Linked DNA regions of Homo sapiens: region 2 is linked to region 1. The links come from fine-mapping of genetic effects on gene expression. Tissue or cell type: activated naive CD4 T cells. Region 1 holds a variant in brackets; the other region holds the start of a gene. All regions are shown on one strand. Distances are between the middles of the regions.

Region 1 (7,389 bases):
TTTTTTTTTTTTTTTGTATTTTTAATAGAGACGGGGTTTCACCGTGTTTGCCAGGCTGGTCTTGAACTCCTGACCTCAGGTGATCCACCCGCCTTGACCTCCCAAAGTGCTGGGATTATAGGCATGAGCCACCGCACCCGGCCCTTTCTGCCACATTCTTTTGGTAAAAGCAGGGCATGGTGGCTCATGCCTATAATCCCAGCAATTTAGGAGGCTGAGGTGGGAGTATTGCTTGAGGCCAGGAGTTTTGAGACTAGCTTGGGAAGCACAGCAAGACCTCATCTCTACAAATAATAATAAAATTAGCTGGGTGTTGTGGCATGCACCTGTAGTCCCAGCTACTCGGGAGGCTGAGGGCAGAGGATTGTTTGATCCCAGGAATTTGAGGTTACAGTGAGCTATGATTGCACCAATATACTCCAGCCTGGGCAATAGAGCGAGATGCCCCAACTCTTAAAAAAAAAAAAAAAAAAAAAAGGCAGAGCACTACGCCAGCCAGATTCAAGAGGGTGCAGAAATAGACATCACCTCTGGCTGGGAGGAGCCACAAAGACCCATTGCAAAGGGGCATTGCACAGGAATGGCAGGAATTTGAGGCTGCTCAACACTTGACTACACCCCCCAGCTGGTTCTCCTGGTCTCATCTACCAGCTATGAGAATATTTTCCAAAGTGAAGCATTGAAGATCATTTTGGTAATGGTAGCATCCTTCACATCAAAGTGACTGCTTGGAAGGAACAGTTTCAAGGTGTGCTCTGTGGTGTGTTTATTTAAATCAGTGGGAGAGGCCTGCATCCATTCTGCTCAATCTTCTGTACACAGATTTTCACTGAGGATTTTAAAAAGTCTGAATTCATGTTACAGTGTATTTCTCACTAGAATAGTATTTTCCACAACCTGGAAGTGAGTTGGTTTCATCATCCTTTTGTCTTGCCTACTTTTTCTTATACTGTATCTTTTCTTTTTTTTCTTTTTTTTTTTTTTGCCAGATGCCAAATGCAAAAAGGAGCGGAAGAAGAAAAAGCAAGTGACCAACATTATCTCATTTGATGATGAGGAAGATGAGCAGAACTCTGGGGACATGTTTAAAAAGACACCTGGGGCAGGGGAGAGCTCAGAGGACAACTCCGACCACTCCTCTGTCAATATCATGTCCGCCTTTGAAAGCCCCTTCGGGCCAAACTCCAATGGAAGTCAGAGCAGCAACTCGTGGAAAATTGATTCCCTGTCTTTGAACAGGGAGTTTGGGTACCAGAAGCTTGATGTGAAAAGCATCGATGATGAAGATGTGGATGAAAACGAAGATGACGTGTATGGAAACTCATCAGGACGGAAGCACAGGGGCCACTCAGAGTCGCCCGAGAAGTAAGTTCCCCTCACGCTTCTGTGTGTGTGTGTGTGTGTGTGTGTGTGTGTGTGTGTTTGTATGTAAGATGGAGTCTCACCGTCCCCCAGGCTGGAGTGCCGTGGCGTGATCTCAGCTCACTGCAACCTCCACCTCCCGGGTTCAAGCGATTCTCCTGCCTCAGCCTCCCGAGTAGCTGGGATTGCAGGCACCTGACACCACACCCAGCTAATTTTTGTATTTTTAGTAGAGATGGGGTTTCACCATATTGGCCAGGCTGGTCTCAAACTCCTGACCTCAAGTGATCCGCCTGCCTTGGCCTCCCAAAGTGCTAGGTTTACAGGCATGAGCCACCAAGCCCAGCCTCCCCTTGTGCTTTTAATGAGGGGGTTAAGTTCACCGTTTTCTCTTTCTATGGTATTGGGTGAAATAGGTCTGCAAGTTTTATATTTGCCCAGGGTATCATTCATTCTTCAGGTGTTGATTTAGGAGTGTTATTTGGAAGGAGTGTTATTTGCTCTTCCCTTGAGAACTGAAAGAGGGGAAGAGAGTACATTTGAGGGCACTTAATACAAAGTTAATGTCAGAATGTGTGCCTTGAAATTCTTGCTTTATACATACATCTGTAATTTTCATTTCACAGGGTTCACAGGGTTTCACAGTCTGATGAGACTGTGCCTGTTATTGTTTTTTATTTTTACTCTGGATTTTCCTTGCATCTGACTTGCCACTAGCACAGGAAGCTCAGGACGAAGGCAGCGTTAGGAGAATAGTTGTGGTATGGTGACTTCTGTGTTTATCTGCAGGGGTGTGAATAGCTGTAATATCCACTGCACCTGCTGCCTTAACAGTGGAGTTGGCCAGGCGCAGTGGCTCACACCTGTAATCCCAGCACTTTGGGACACCAAGTTGGGTGGGTCATCTGAGGTCAGGAGTTTGAGACCAGCCTGACCAATATGGTGAAACCCCTTCTCTACTAAAAAAATACAAAATTAGCCAGGCATGGTGGTGCATGCCTGTAACTCCAGATACTTGGGATGCTGAGGCAGGAGAATCGCTTGAATATGGGAGGCAGAGCCAAGATGACACCATTGCACTCCAGCCTGGGCAACAAGAGAGAAGGTCCTTCTCAAAAAAAAAAAAAAAAAAATTCCCAAAATACCCCAAATAAGCTAGTTACCTCTTAGGCTTTGTGGTGCACAGTGCCCTCCTAATCATGACTACTGCAAAATCCAGTCCATTAAAGTGTAAAATGAGGCCAGGTGCAGTGGTTCATGCCTGTAATCCCAGCACTTTGGGAGGCTGAGTTGGGAGGATTGCTTAAGGCCAGGAGTTTGATACCAGCCTGGGCAACATAGCAAGAACTCCGTCTCTACAAAAAAATAAAAAGTGTAAAATGAATATACAGAAATGTATCTCTCTATTTGACCTAAATCTTATGGATCGCACCATTGCACTCCAGCCTGGGCAACAAGAGTGAAACTCCGTCTCAAAAATAAAAAATAAAAAAAACATTAAACTTCAAGTCCGGGTGCAGTGGCTCACACCCGTAATCCCAGCACTTCAGGAAGCTGAGGGGGGTAGATCACTTGAGGTCAGGAGTTTGAGACCAGCCTGGCCAACATGGTGAAACCCCATCTCTACTAAAACTACAAAATTAGTCAGGCATAGTGGCAGGCACCTGTAATCCCAGCTACTGGGGAGGCTGAAGCAGGAGAATCACTTGAACCCAGGAGGTGGAGGTTGCAGTGAGCCGAGATCACACCATTGCATTCCAGCCTGGGTGATAGAGCAAAGCTCCATCTCAAAAAATTAAAATAAATAAAATAAAATAATAAAATAAATTAAACTTCAGAAGGAAAGAGAGTTGTAGCCTTGATTCCTTTTTTCCCAAGACACTCCTTGAGGCCTATGCAAATTTTCCCAACTCCTCAGCAGTCACAGCTAAG[T/C]GGGCCAAAGCAAGGGCTAGTGGAAGGAGTGATCGCAGACCCCATGACACCCTTCACACAGAGCCATAGATGACTACTCAACTTACGGTCACGTCACCATGGGAGAGTCACCAAACAGCATCTCTCTCTGAAATGTCAACATCTATACACCCATCTAGTGTCTGGTTTAGGGTGGAAATGTGGGTGTAAGAAAAGTAATTTAGAGGTAATTACTGGCAGCTGAGGGGAGGAGACTGTTCCTCACCCAGCCTTGGGTTAGTGGAGATTTGGTGCAATGGACAAAAACAGAGGTTTTGATTTGGAGGCGAAGAAAGGGGGCAATGGCTCCAGAGGCCAAGAGCAGAGAAGGACAGCCAGGAAGTGGGCTGAGCATGGTGGACTCAGGAGATGGGGAGCCCCATCTTGGGATGCCTCAGAGACATTGTGGAGGGGGCCTGGTTTTCCTTTTTGAACATTTTTTATTGTTATTATTAATTAATTTATTTATTTATTTTTTATTTTTATTATTATTTTTTGAGATGGAGTCTCACTCTGTCATCCAGGCTGGAGTGCAGTGGCATGATCTTGGCTCACTGCAACCTCCGACTCCTACGTTCAAGCAATTCTTCTGCCTCAGCCTCCCGAGTAGCTGGGACTACAGGTGCACGTCACCACACCCAGCTAATTTTTGTATTTTTAGTAGAGACGGGGTTTCACCATATTGGCCAGGCTGGTCTTGAACTCCTGACCTCGTGATCCACCTGCCTCGGCCTCTCAAAGTGCTGGGATTACAGGCATGAACTACCGCACCCGGCCCTTTTCTTTTTTTCTTTGAGACAGAGTTTCACTCTTGTTGCCCAGGTTGGAGTGCAATGGCACAATCTCAGCTCACCGCAACCTCCACCTCTTGGGTTCAAGCGATTCTCCTGCCTCAGCCTCTTGAGTAGCTGGAATTACAGGCATGTGCCACCATGCCCGGCTAATTTTGTATTTTTGTAGTAGAGACGGGTTTCTCCATGTTTGTCAGGCTGGTCTCAAACTCCTGACCTCAGGTGATCTGCCCGCCTCAGCCTCCCAAAGTGCTTGGATTACAGGGGTGAGCCACTGTGCCTGGCCTACAAACTGGTCTATCAGCAAGGTCTTTATGACCTGTATCTTGTGCCAACCTCCTGTCTCATCCTGTGACTTAGAATGCCTTAACCTCCTGGGAATGCAGCCAAGCAGGTCTTAGCCTTATTTTACCCAGCCCCTATTCAAGATAGAGTCGCTCAGGTTCAAATGCCTCTGACACTCCTGCCTCAGCCTTTGAGACAGCTGGGACTATAGGCACACACCACCAGGCCTGGCTAATGTCTTCATTTCTATTTTGTAGGGACAGGGTCTTGCTATGTTGCCCAGACTAGTCTCAAACTCCTGGCCTCAAGCCATCCTCCCACTACAGCCTTGTAGAGTGCTGGGATTACAGGCATGAGCCACCACGCCAGGCCTTGGTTTTTCTTAGTATGTGGGCTAAAGTCATTCAATGTTGATGGTAAAGGAAAATGGGGCCGGGCACCGTGGCTCACACCTATAATCCTAGCACTTTGGGAGGCCCAGGGGGGCGGATCACCTGAGGTCAGGAATTCAAGACCAGCCTGGCCAACATGTCAAAACCCCATCTCTGCTAAAAATACAAAAATTAGCTGAACACGTTGGCTCATTCCTGTCATCCCAGCACTTTGGGAGGCCGAGCTGGGTGGATCACTTGAGGTCAGGGGTTTGAGACCAGCCTGGCTAACATGTACTAAAACTACAAACATTAGCCGGGCACAATGGTGGCTGCCTGTAATCCCAGCTACTCAGGAGGCTGAGACAGGAAAATCACTTGAACCCGGGAGGCGGAGGTTGTAGTGAGCCAAGATCGCACCACTGCACTCCAGCCTGGGCGACAATATAATAATAATAATTATTTTTTTTTGACAGAGACAAAAAATAATAATGATACTTTTTTTAAAAAAAGGAAAATGGGAGGTGATTGTAGAAGGTAGAGGATTTGGAGTGATAGTTCATTACAATTGTAATAAGGACCACAAGATGCTAAGAGTAATGAGATGTAGCGGACGTCTGCTATTTTTGCCTGTTCAGCATCCACTCGTTCTGCTTTGTGTGATAGCACCCCAAGCTTCCTTTGAACCAGTCCTTCCTTCAGCGGAGGCCGACCCCACCCCTTCGCTCTGTGGGGTGGCCACATGACCCAGGTCTAGCCAATCAGCACATTCCATCCCGGAGCAGCAGCTGTGTGCCCCTAGCCCAAGCTAGGCTGCTCCTGGCTTTGTGTACCTATTAGGGGAAAATGTGTTCTCTTTTCACTGCAGTTGCTAAGCATGTGGGATGTAAGCCTGGACTTGCTGGTGGCTGCCTTTGCCACCGCTTAGGGAGATTCTGGCCAGGCATGAAGCCGGCACAGAGTAAATGAAGCAGGGCCAGGAGATGAGGAGAGATGGATTCTGATTGCATTATATGAGTACTAGGATCTGTGTCTGAAATCCAAATGGCTTTTTCTTTTCTTTTCTTTTCTTTCTTTTTAGAAACGGAGCACACTCTGTCACCCAGGCTGGAGTGCAATGGCACGATCTCAGCTCACTACAACCTCTGCCTCCCGGGTTCAAGTGATTCTACTGCCTCAGCCTCCCGTGTAGCTGGGATTACAGGCGCGCACCAACACACCCGACTAATTTTTGTATTTTTAGTAAAGACAGGGTTTCACCATGTTGGCCAGGCTGGTCTTGCACTCCTGACCTCACGTGATCTGCCCCACCTTGGCCTCCCAAAGTGCTGGGATTACAGGTGTGAACCACTGCGCCCAGCCCCAAGTGGCTTTTTCAATTACATGAGCCAACATATTCTCACAAGTCCATTCGAGTTTGGTGTCTGTTACTTGCAAATAAGGGAGTTCTGATTGGTTCCCAGTGAAACCTCATCTGTAAGACCTCTGAGCCACCAGTATCCACGGGGCTTGTCCTATAACAGCTCCTGTGCAATCCAGTAACCTTGAACACTGGAAGCCACTGAGCCCTTCTGTGAGTAGATGCACACCTCTGAGGCTAAGATTACTGGTGTACTCATTGGGACCAGTTTGGTCTCAGTGACTGAAAACTCAACCCAAACTTGTTCATTTGGAAAGGAAAAGTCAACCAGGCACAGTGGCTCATGCCTGTAGTTCCAGCACTTTGGGAGGCTGAGGTGGACAGATCGCTTGAGCCCAGGGGTTCAAGACCAACCTGGGCAACATAGCAAAACCCTGCCTCTACAAAAAAAAAAAAAAATTCTTTTTTTTTCGAGACAGAGTCTCGCACTGTCGCCCAGGCTGGAGTGCAGTGGTGCAATCTTGGCTCACTGCAATCTCTGCCTCCCGGGCTCAAGCGATTCTCCTGCCTCAGCCTCCCGAGTAGTTGGACTACAGGCGTGCACCAACAGGGCCAGCCAATTTTTGTATTTTTAGTAGAGACAGGGTTTCACAATGTTGGCCAGGATGGTCTCGATTTCTTGACCTCGTGATCTGCCTGCCTCGGCTTCCCAAAGTGCCGGGATTACAGGCGTGAGCCACCGGTGCCTGGCCTCTACAAAAAATATTTTAAATTAGCAGGCATGATGGTGCATGCCTGTAGTCCCAAATGGGCAAAGTTGTTCTCTGATTGGCTGAGGTCTTTGTCACCTGCTCCACCCCTGAGCTGGAGCCCCACCCAAAGTAATTGACTGAAAGGGGGTGTTCTCCAGTGGGAAATTAGGTAAGGTTTACATTATTTGGCCCTAACTCTTCACCCTTCCCCCTACCCATGCCCTTGGCCATGTAATTTTGCAGTGCCCTCCTGTCACAGGCAGGATGACCTGATGCCTCTTTTTTCTTTTTTGAGATGGAGTCTCACTCTGTCGCCCAGGCTGGAGTGCAATGGTGCAATCTCAGCTCTCTGCAACCTCCACTTCCTGGGTTCAAGAGATTCTCCTGCCTCAGCCTCCTAAGTAGCTGGGATTACAGGCGCCTGCCACCACACCCAGCTAATTTTTGCATTTTTAGTAGAGAAAGGGTTTCGCCATGTTGGCCAGGCTGGTCTTGAACTCCTGACTTCAGGTGATCCT
Region 2 (7,389 bases), 810 kb before region 1:
CTCCACCTCCTGGGTTCATGCCATTCTCCTGTCTCAGCCTCCCAAGTAGCTGGGACTACAGGCGCCCGCCACCACGCCTGGCTAACTTTTTGTATTTTTAGTACAGACAGGGTTTCACCGTGTTAGCCAGGATGGTCTTGATCTCCTGACCTTGTGATCCACCCACCTCGGCCTCCCAAAGTGCTGGGATTACAGGTGTGAGCCACCGCGCCCGGCTAATTTTTAAATTTTTTGTAGAGATGAGATCTCACTCTGTTACCCAGGCTGGTCTTGAATTCCTGGGCTCAAGCGGTCCTCCTGCCTCAATTTCAGTAGTAGCTGGGACTACAGGTGCATGCCACCACGCCTGGCTAATTAAAAAGATTTTTTTTGTAGAGACAGGATCTTGCTATGTTTTCCAGGCTAGAGTGCAGTGGCACAATCATAGCTCACTGTTGCCTTGAACTCTTGGCCTCAAGTGATCCTCTAGCCTCAGCCTCCCAAAGCAGTGGGATTGTAGGCATGTGCCACTCTGGCCCGAATAGATGAGGGGAGATCATTTAAGATGGCATTGCTCAGTCTCACTAGTGGGCATACATCTCAGAGAAATCTTCATATAGACCGCAGGGGAATAAGCATGAGGTTGTTCACTGTGGCATTGTTTGTGGTAGCCAGTAGTAGTTGGAGGCAACTTACAGGTCCATCATAACTGAAATGTTGCTGCCCACTTCGAAATATTGCATGGTTGCTGTAAGTCATAGGTAAAGTGTGCCCACAATGACAGGTGTTGAAAGCAGAGGGCTGAGGCCTGGCGCGCTGGCTCACGCCTGTAATCCCAGGAAATTTGGGAGGCTGAGGTTAGTGGATCACCTGAGGTCAGGAGTTTGAGACCAGCCTGGCCAACATGGTGAAACCCCATCTCTACTAAAAATATAAAAAATTAGCTGGGCGTCGTGGCGCGCGTCTGCACTCCAGCCTGAGTGACAGAGTGAGACTCTGTCTCAAAAAAATTTTTAAAATAACAAATAAATAGAGAGGCCGTGCAGAGCCCAATGACGAAGTGTGTCATTAAGTAGAAATAAGTAACTCAACCTTAGCACCAGCGATTAAAAAACAGAGAACCTTTGCAGTTGTTTAGGGAAGATGTCCCTACTTTGGCCTAGGGTGGATGTGGTGGAGGTGAAAAGTAGGTGGATTGTGTTATATGAATGAATATGTGTAAAGGATTTTGAACAGTGCCCGGTGCATAGCAAGTGCCTAACAAATGTGTTTTTATATTGCAGACACGTGGTGGATTGAATGAGGGAGGGGAGGGAAAGGGTGATGTCAGGGATAACCCCCAGGTGCTGGCTCAGGACATTGTACTAAGTAGGAGGTGGGACATGAAAACTGAGTATAGATGATTCTTTTGAGAAATGTGGATGTGGAGAAGACAGAGCAATTCCTTACATGTGGACAACACTCTAAAACACTTTTTAAAAAGTTAATAAATACATGTTTATTGTAGAAAAATCAGAAATTAACGATAAAATTTTAAAACAGGGCAGAGACCAAAATAATTTAAAAAACAACTGTAAGCTCTACATCTCTCCTGATCAGTGACTAGGGTTGATTTTTTAAATTTATTTTATTTATTTATTTTTTGAGACAGAGTCTTGCTCTGTTGCCCAGACTGGAGTGCAGTGGCGCAATCTTGGCTCACTGCAACCTCCGCCTCCTGGGTTCAAGTGGTTCTTTCCTGCTTCAGCCTCCAGAGTAGCTGGGACTACAGGTGCGTGCCACCATGCCCAGCTAATTTTTGTATTTTTAGTAGAGACATGGTTTCATCATATTGGCTAGGCTGGTCTCAAACTCCTGACCTCGTGATCTGCCCACCTCGGCCTCCCAAAGTGCTGGGATTACAGGCGTGAGTCACCACGCCTGGCCTAGCTAGGGCTGATATTTAACAATCAGGAAAAAGAGCCCCTGAGACCTTTACAAATGCAAAATTTGCAAAATCCCTCAAAGCATAACCTTCATAAAAGGCAGTAAGTAGAACTGCAGCTGGGTGGATGGGCATGTCATTCACTGACCTGACGCCCACAGAAAGAACTGCAAGTGTGATGGAAGAAAATGATGCATTAATTTTGGGGTTAACATAGTTTCAGTGCTAACGCCTGAGATTCTCTAATAAACAGAAAAATACTGACGGGGCTGAGGTTGGTGGCTCATGCCTGTAATCCCAGCACTTTGGGAGGCTGAGGCAGGAGGATCGCTTGAGCCCAGGAACTCAAGACCAGCCTATGCAACATAGCAAGACCCCCATCTCTACCAAAAAAAATTTAAAAATCAGCAGAATGTGCTGGTGTGTGCTTGTAGTCCTAGCTACTCAGGAGCCCTGATGGCACCACTGCACTCCAACCTGGACAACAGAGCGAGACCCTGTCTCAAAGAGAAAAAAAAAGAAACATGTGATGGCCAGGCACTGTGCTAGGTACTAGGAATACACAGGTGAACACAAGATGATCCCAATCTCATAGGACTTGCAAGTTTATCAAATAATCAACAAATAATTACAGACATTTGTAGGTTATGTAAGAAACTTTAAGATACCAGGATGGCTTTCGATAAAATACCATTGAGGCTACATGTCCATTGCACGTCCATATCCTTAGTACTTTCCTGAGAAGATTCCCTAGAAGTGCGATTTCTGGGTCTAAAGATCTGCTTGTTTTTTGTTTGTTTGTTTTTTTGAGATGGAGTTTCCCTCTTGTCACCCAGGCTGGAGTGCAATGGTACAATCTCCAGTCACTACAACCTCCGCCTCCTGAATTCAAGCGATTCTCCAGCCTCAGCCTCCCCAGTACCTGGGATTACAGGCACCCGCCACCACGCCCGGCTGATTTTTGTATTTTTTAGTAGAGACGGGGTTTCACCATGTTGGCCGGGTTGGTTTCAAACTCCTGAACTCAGGTGATCCGCCCGCCTTAGCGTCCCAGTGTTGGGATTACAGGCGTGAGCCACCGCGCCCGGCCTGTTTTTAATTAATTTTTTAACAACAGACTTTTATTTTTTAGGGCATTTTTAGGTTCACAACAAAATTGAGCAGAAAGTACAGTTTTCATATTACCCCTGCGCCCACCCACCTCCAGCAAGCAGCAATCTGTTCGCTTTCAAGTTTTATTTATTTATTTATTTATTGCATTTTGTTTTAAATAGAGTCTGGGGAAATGGGAGAAAACGCTGAAAACGCACAAGCACTTTGGTTGGTTAAATTAGGGTTCCGCCAAGAGCCGGAGCGGTGTGCCAAGTGAAAACTACATTTCCCACGGGGCAGCGGGTCACGTCACAGAGGAACGACTACGCATGCGTGCAAGGTCCTCCGCGCGCGACTACGCTCATAAAAGGAAAAAAAAGCGTGTGCGGTTCTCGACGTGCCGCCAATCTTCGAACGCAGGTCTGTGATCATCCGCAGACTCCGAAAAAGGGTTCGAGGAACGCGCCTGCTCCCCTCGTCGCAGTTTCCAGCCCGACGAGCTTGTTTTGTCCCGGACTCGGTAGGTGGCGACGGGCCGTGGCCTGAGACCTCCGGCGAAACGCGGGAGCGAAGGGCTGAGTCCTCCCTCCGCGCCGCGGCTCCCGACCTCCCTGAGGCGGCGCTCTAGGGGCGGTGCGCACGCGCTCTGGGCGGGAGGGGGGCGGGGCTCGTGGGGGTGGGGGCGGGAGAGGAGGGCGGGGCCGGGGCTCGGGGAGGGCGGGCCCTGCGCCCGGCCGCTCGAGGTCTGCGCTTGCGTGCTTCCATCCCCGGCGAGGGTGGGAAACAGCGACACGCTGGGCTCGGCACGGACGCAGCTTCCAGGTGGGGTACTCGGACCCGGGTCACGAAGATGCGGACAGAGGATGGGCCCCGAACTCCAGCACTTATTTTATGATTTGCACAAAAATTTTGTATATATATATAGTTCTTAACAAGATACACTAACAGCTCGTCGTTTGCCCAGGAGGCTCAACCTCCCGCCTCGGCCTCCCAAAGTGTGGGGAGTATAGGCGTGAGCCCCCGCGCCCGGCCAAAAAATGCCCGTCTTAAGAACAACAAAACAGCCTCCTTCACCCTCGCTATCCTCCAGTTACCTCCTCCTCGGCTCCGGTTTGCAGCCAAAGGCCTTAGTCTACCCTCACTAATGCCTTTTCTCCTCCAAGTCTTGAACCCTTGAGCCTCTAGTCAGGCTTTGGTCTCCACCACTCCACTAAAAAGGCTTCTTGTCAAAGCCACCAGTGATCTCTAGGTGGCCAAATGCATTGTTAAGTTAGGTCTCAGTCCTGTTCAGCATTTGATGCTGTGGATCACTGCCCCTCCTTGAAACACTGTTTTCATTTGGCTTGCTGAACGTTCTCTTCCTTTGCCTCTGCTCTCTCTGGCTTCTCCTCTGCTGATTCTAACCTAGGCATCATCTCACATTTTTGTTTTTATTAGAGACACGTTCTCTGTTGCTCAGACTGGAGAACAGTGGTGTTATTACAGCTCACTGCAGCCTCAAACTCTTGGGCTTAAGCAGTCCTCCTAACCAAAGCCTCCCCAAATGCTGGAATTACAGGCATGAGCCACCGCAATCCCAGTTTCACATTTTAAATGTAAATACTGGCCAGGCGCGGTGGCTCATGCGTGTAATCCTAGCACTTTGGGAGGCCGAGGTGGGCAGACTGCCTGAGCTCAGGGGTTTGAGACCAGCCCGAGCAACGTGGTGAAATCCAGTCTCTTCTAAAAAAAAAAAAAAAAATTAAAAAATTAGCCGGGCGTGGTGGTGCACGCCTGTAATCCCAGCTACTTGGGAGGCTGAGGCACAATAATCACTTAAACCCAGGAGGTGGATGCTGCAGTGAGCCAAGATCGTGCCACTGCACTCTAGCCTGGGTGACAGAGCAAGACCCTGTCTCAAAAAAGAGTTCTAGAGGTGGAAGAAAATCCACATATAAGTGGACCTGCACAATTAAAACCTGCATTGTTTGAGGGTCAACTGTATAGCTATTTTAAAAGAGATTTATTGTGATGGATTGGGTGACACTATTATAGAGGCTGAGAAGTCCCGAGATTTGCCATCTGCAAGCTGGAAGCCCAGGAAAGCAAACCCTCAGGAAACTCACAGACACACTCTAAAGTGTTTCACCAGCTATCTGGGAATCCCCTAGCCCAATCAGTTTGACACATAAAGTTAACCATCACATTTCCCTAGCTTTGTTTTTCAGTTGCCTCAATCATCATTTTACTGGTGATACTTTGAGTGTTGTCATAATAGCCTAATGGTGGGTTGGCAGCTTCCACTTTTGTGATCTCTTTTACTATTGAATATGCTGAAGTCGTGACACAACTTGGAATTCAGAGGAAGAGCATAGGTTTTAGAACTTGCAGCCTTGCAGCCCCAGCTCAACTACCTATTTTTCCTGAGTTACCTAGCATAACCTATCTGAATTTCAGTTTCTTCACTATACTTACTATTCTGTTATCTATTTTATAGGATTGCTGTAAGGTTTAAATGAGAAACACTGGCATAAGTTGCAATACAGAGGCATGAAGGAAAAAAATTGTCTTCTTAATGTCTCTTTAACCAATTGATGAATATAGATTCTATTTATTTATTTATTTATTTTTGAGATGGAGTCTCGCTCTGTCACCCAGGCCGGAGTATAGTGGTGCAATGTCAACTCACTGCAACCTCTGCCTCCCGGGTTCAAGTGATTCTCCTGCCTCAGCCTCCTGAGTAGCTGGGATTACAAGCATGCACCACCATGCCTGGCTAATTTTTTGTTTGTTTGTTTGTTTGTTTTGAGACGGAGTTTCACTCTTTGTTGCCCAGGCTGGATTGCAATGGCGCAATCATGGCTCACTGCAACCTCCGCCTTCCGGTTTCAAGCGATTCTCCTGCCTCAGCCTTCCAAGTAGCTGTGATTACAGGCATGTGCCACCACACCCGATTAATTTTGTATTTTTAGTAGAGACAGGGTTTCACCATGTTGGCCAGGCTGGTCTTGAACTCCTGATCTTAGTTGATCTGCCGGCCTTGGCCTCCCAAAGTGCTGGGATTACAGGTGTGAGCCATTGCGCCCAACCTACTTATGTTTTTTTTAGAAACAAGGTCTTACTCTGTCACCCAGGCTGGAGCCTAGTGGTGCCATTATAGCTCATTATTCCCAAATTCCTGGGCTCAAGTGATCCTCCTGCCATAGCCTCCTGAGTAGCTAGGACTACACATGTGCACCACCCTGCCCAGCTAATTATTTTATTTTGTTTTTGTAGAGACAGGGCCTCCGTGTGTTGCCCAGGATGGTCCTGAACTCCTGACTTCAAGTGATCCTCCCATTTCGGCCTCCCAAAATGCTGGGATTACGGTCATGAGCCACTGCACCCAGTTTGCAGATTCTCATTGCTAGTGACTGGGTTGAGAGTGTGGGATGTGAGTGTGGGGTATTAGGTTCCTCTTTCCCTTTGACCCAGAACAAAGCTCTTACTGTTTTAAGCCCTGTGGGATTAATCTTAGAGTGGCTTAAGTGTAGGATATTTGGATTTGTTTATTTGAGGCCTTTTATGCTATTATAGTAAAAGGGCCAGCAATTTTAGGCTGGGTATTAGTGGTTAACATATGCTTCTACCCTGCAGCCTTTGTCCCTCAGAATTGGCTATCTCTTCAGACCGTGCTTAATGAAAGTTCTTATTAGTCAAGCTACTCAGTTGCAGATAACAAAAAGCTACTCTGACTAGCCTAAGCTGAAAGGGGTGTTTGTTGACTCTGTGATATTGTAAAATATATATCTGGTTTGTATCCCAGTTTGGAGCTTCCTGGAGGGTGGCGTGCCCAGGGTGGGTATGGAAGCTCTTCGCTCCTTCCCACATGCTTTGCCCTGTGCACCTCTTCCTTCATCTGTATCCATTGTGACATCCTTTATAATAAGCCAGTAAACCTAAGTGTTTCCCTGAGTGCTGAGAGCTGCTCCTGCAAATTAATGGAACCCAAGGAGGGAGTCATGGAAACCCTGATTTATAGTCAGTTGGTCAGAAGCACAAATAAAGCAACTGGGGGCTTGTGACTGGCATTGAGAATTGGGGGGACATGCTCGTGGGACTGAGCCCTCAACCTGTGGGGTTTGACACTCTGTCTGGGTGGATAGTGTTGGAAATAAACTGAATTAGAGGACATCCAGCGTGTATCCACTGCAGACTCAATGGATTGATTGGTGTTGGGGAGAAATCTCCACACATTTGGCCACGGAAATCTTATGTGTTGATTATCCTATATTGTGACAGCAGAGGAGAAAGTTTTGTTTTTTCCTCACAGACTGTAGCTGAAGAGTCCTGGAGTAAATCAGTTTCAGATGGGACTCTATCCAGAAGCCTAAATTATGTCACCAGTATTTTCTGTTTTTCTTTCTCTGTTTTTT

What was found. PIP is the estimated chance that this variant, and not a neighbour inherited with it, causes the effect.
Region 2: it holds the start of SGF29, and the variant in region 1 is fine-mapped to the expression of SGF29 in activated naive CD4 T cells (Schmiedel 2018, PIP 0.95).

The regions. Positions count from the first base shown.
Region 1 is chr16:29,363,695-29,371,083 of GRCh38, forward strand. It overlaps the pseudogene SNX29P2. Among named protein-coding and RNA genes, the nearest start is that of NPIPB11, 39 kb to the right of the region's middle. The variant T/C (reference allele first, on the strand shown) is at 3,295.
Region 2 is chr16:28,550,583-28,557,971 of GRCh38, forward strand. It overlaps SGF29 (SAGA complex associated factor 29), which reads left to right and starts at 3,338. Exons shown (of 10, transcript NM_138414.3): 1 at 3,338-3,515. RefSeq lists an enhancer at 3,307-3,626 and a silencer at 3,647-3,766.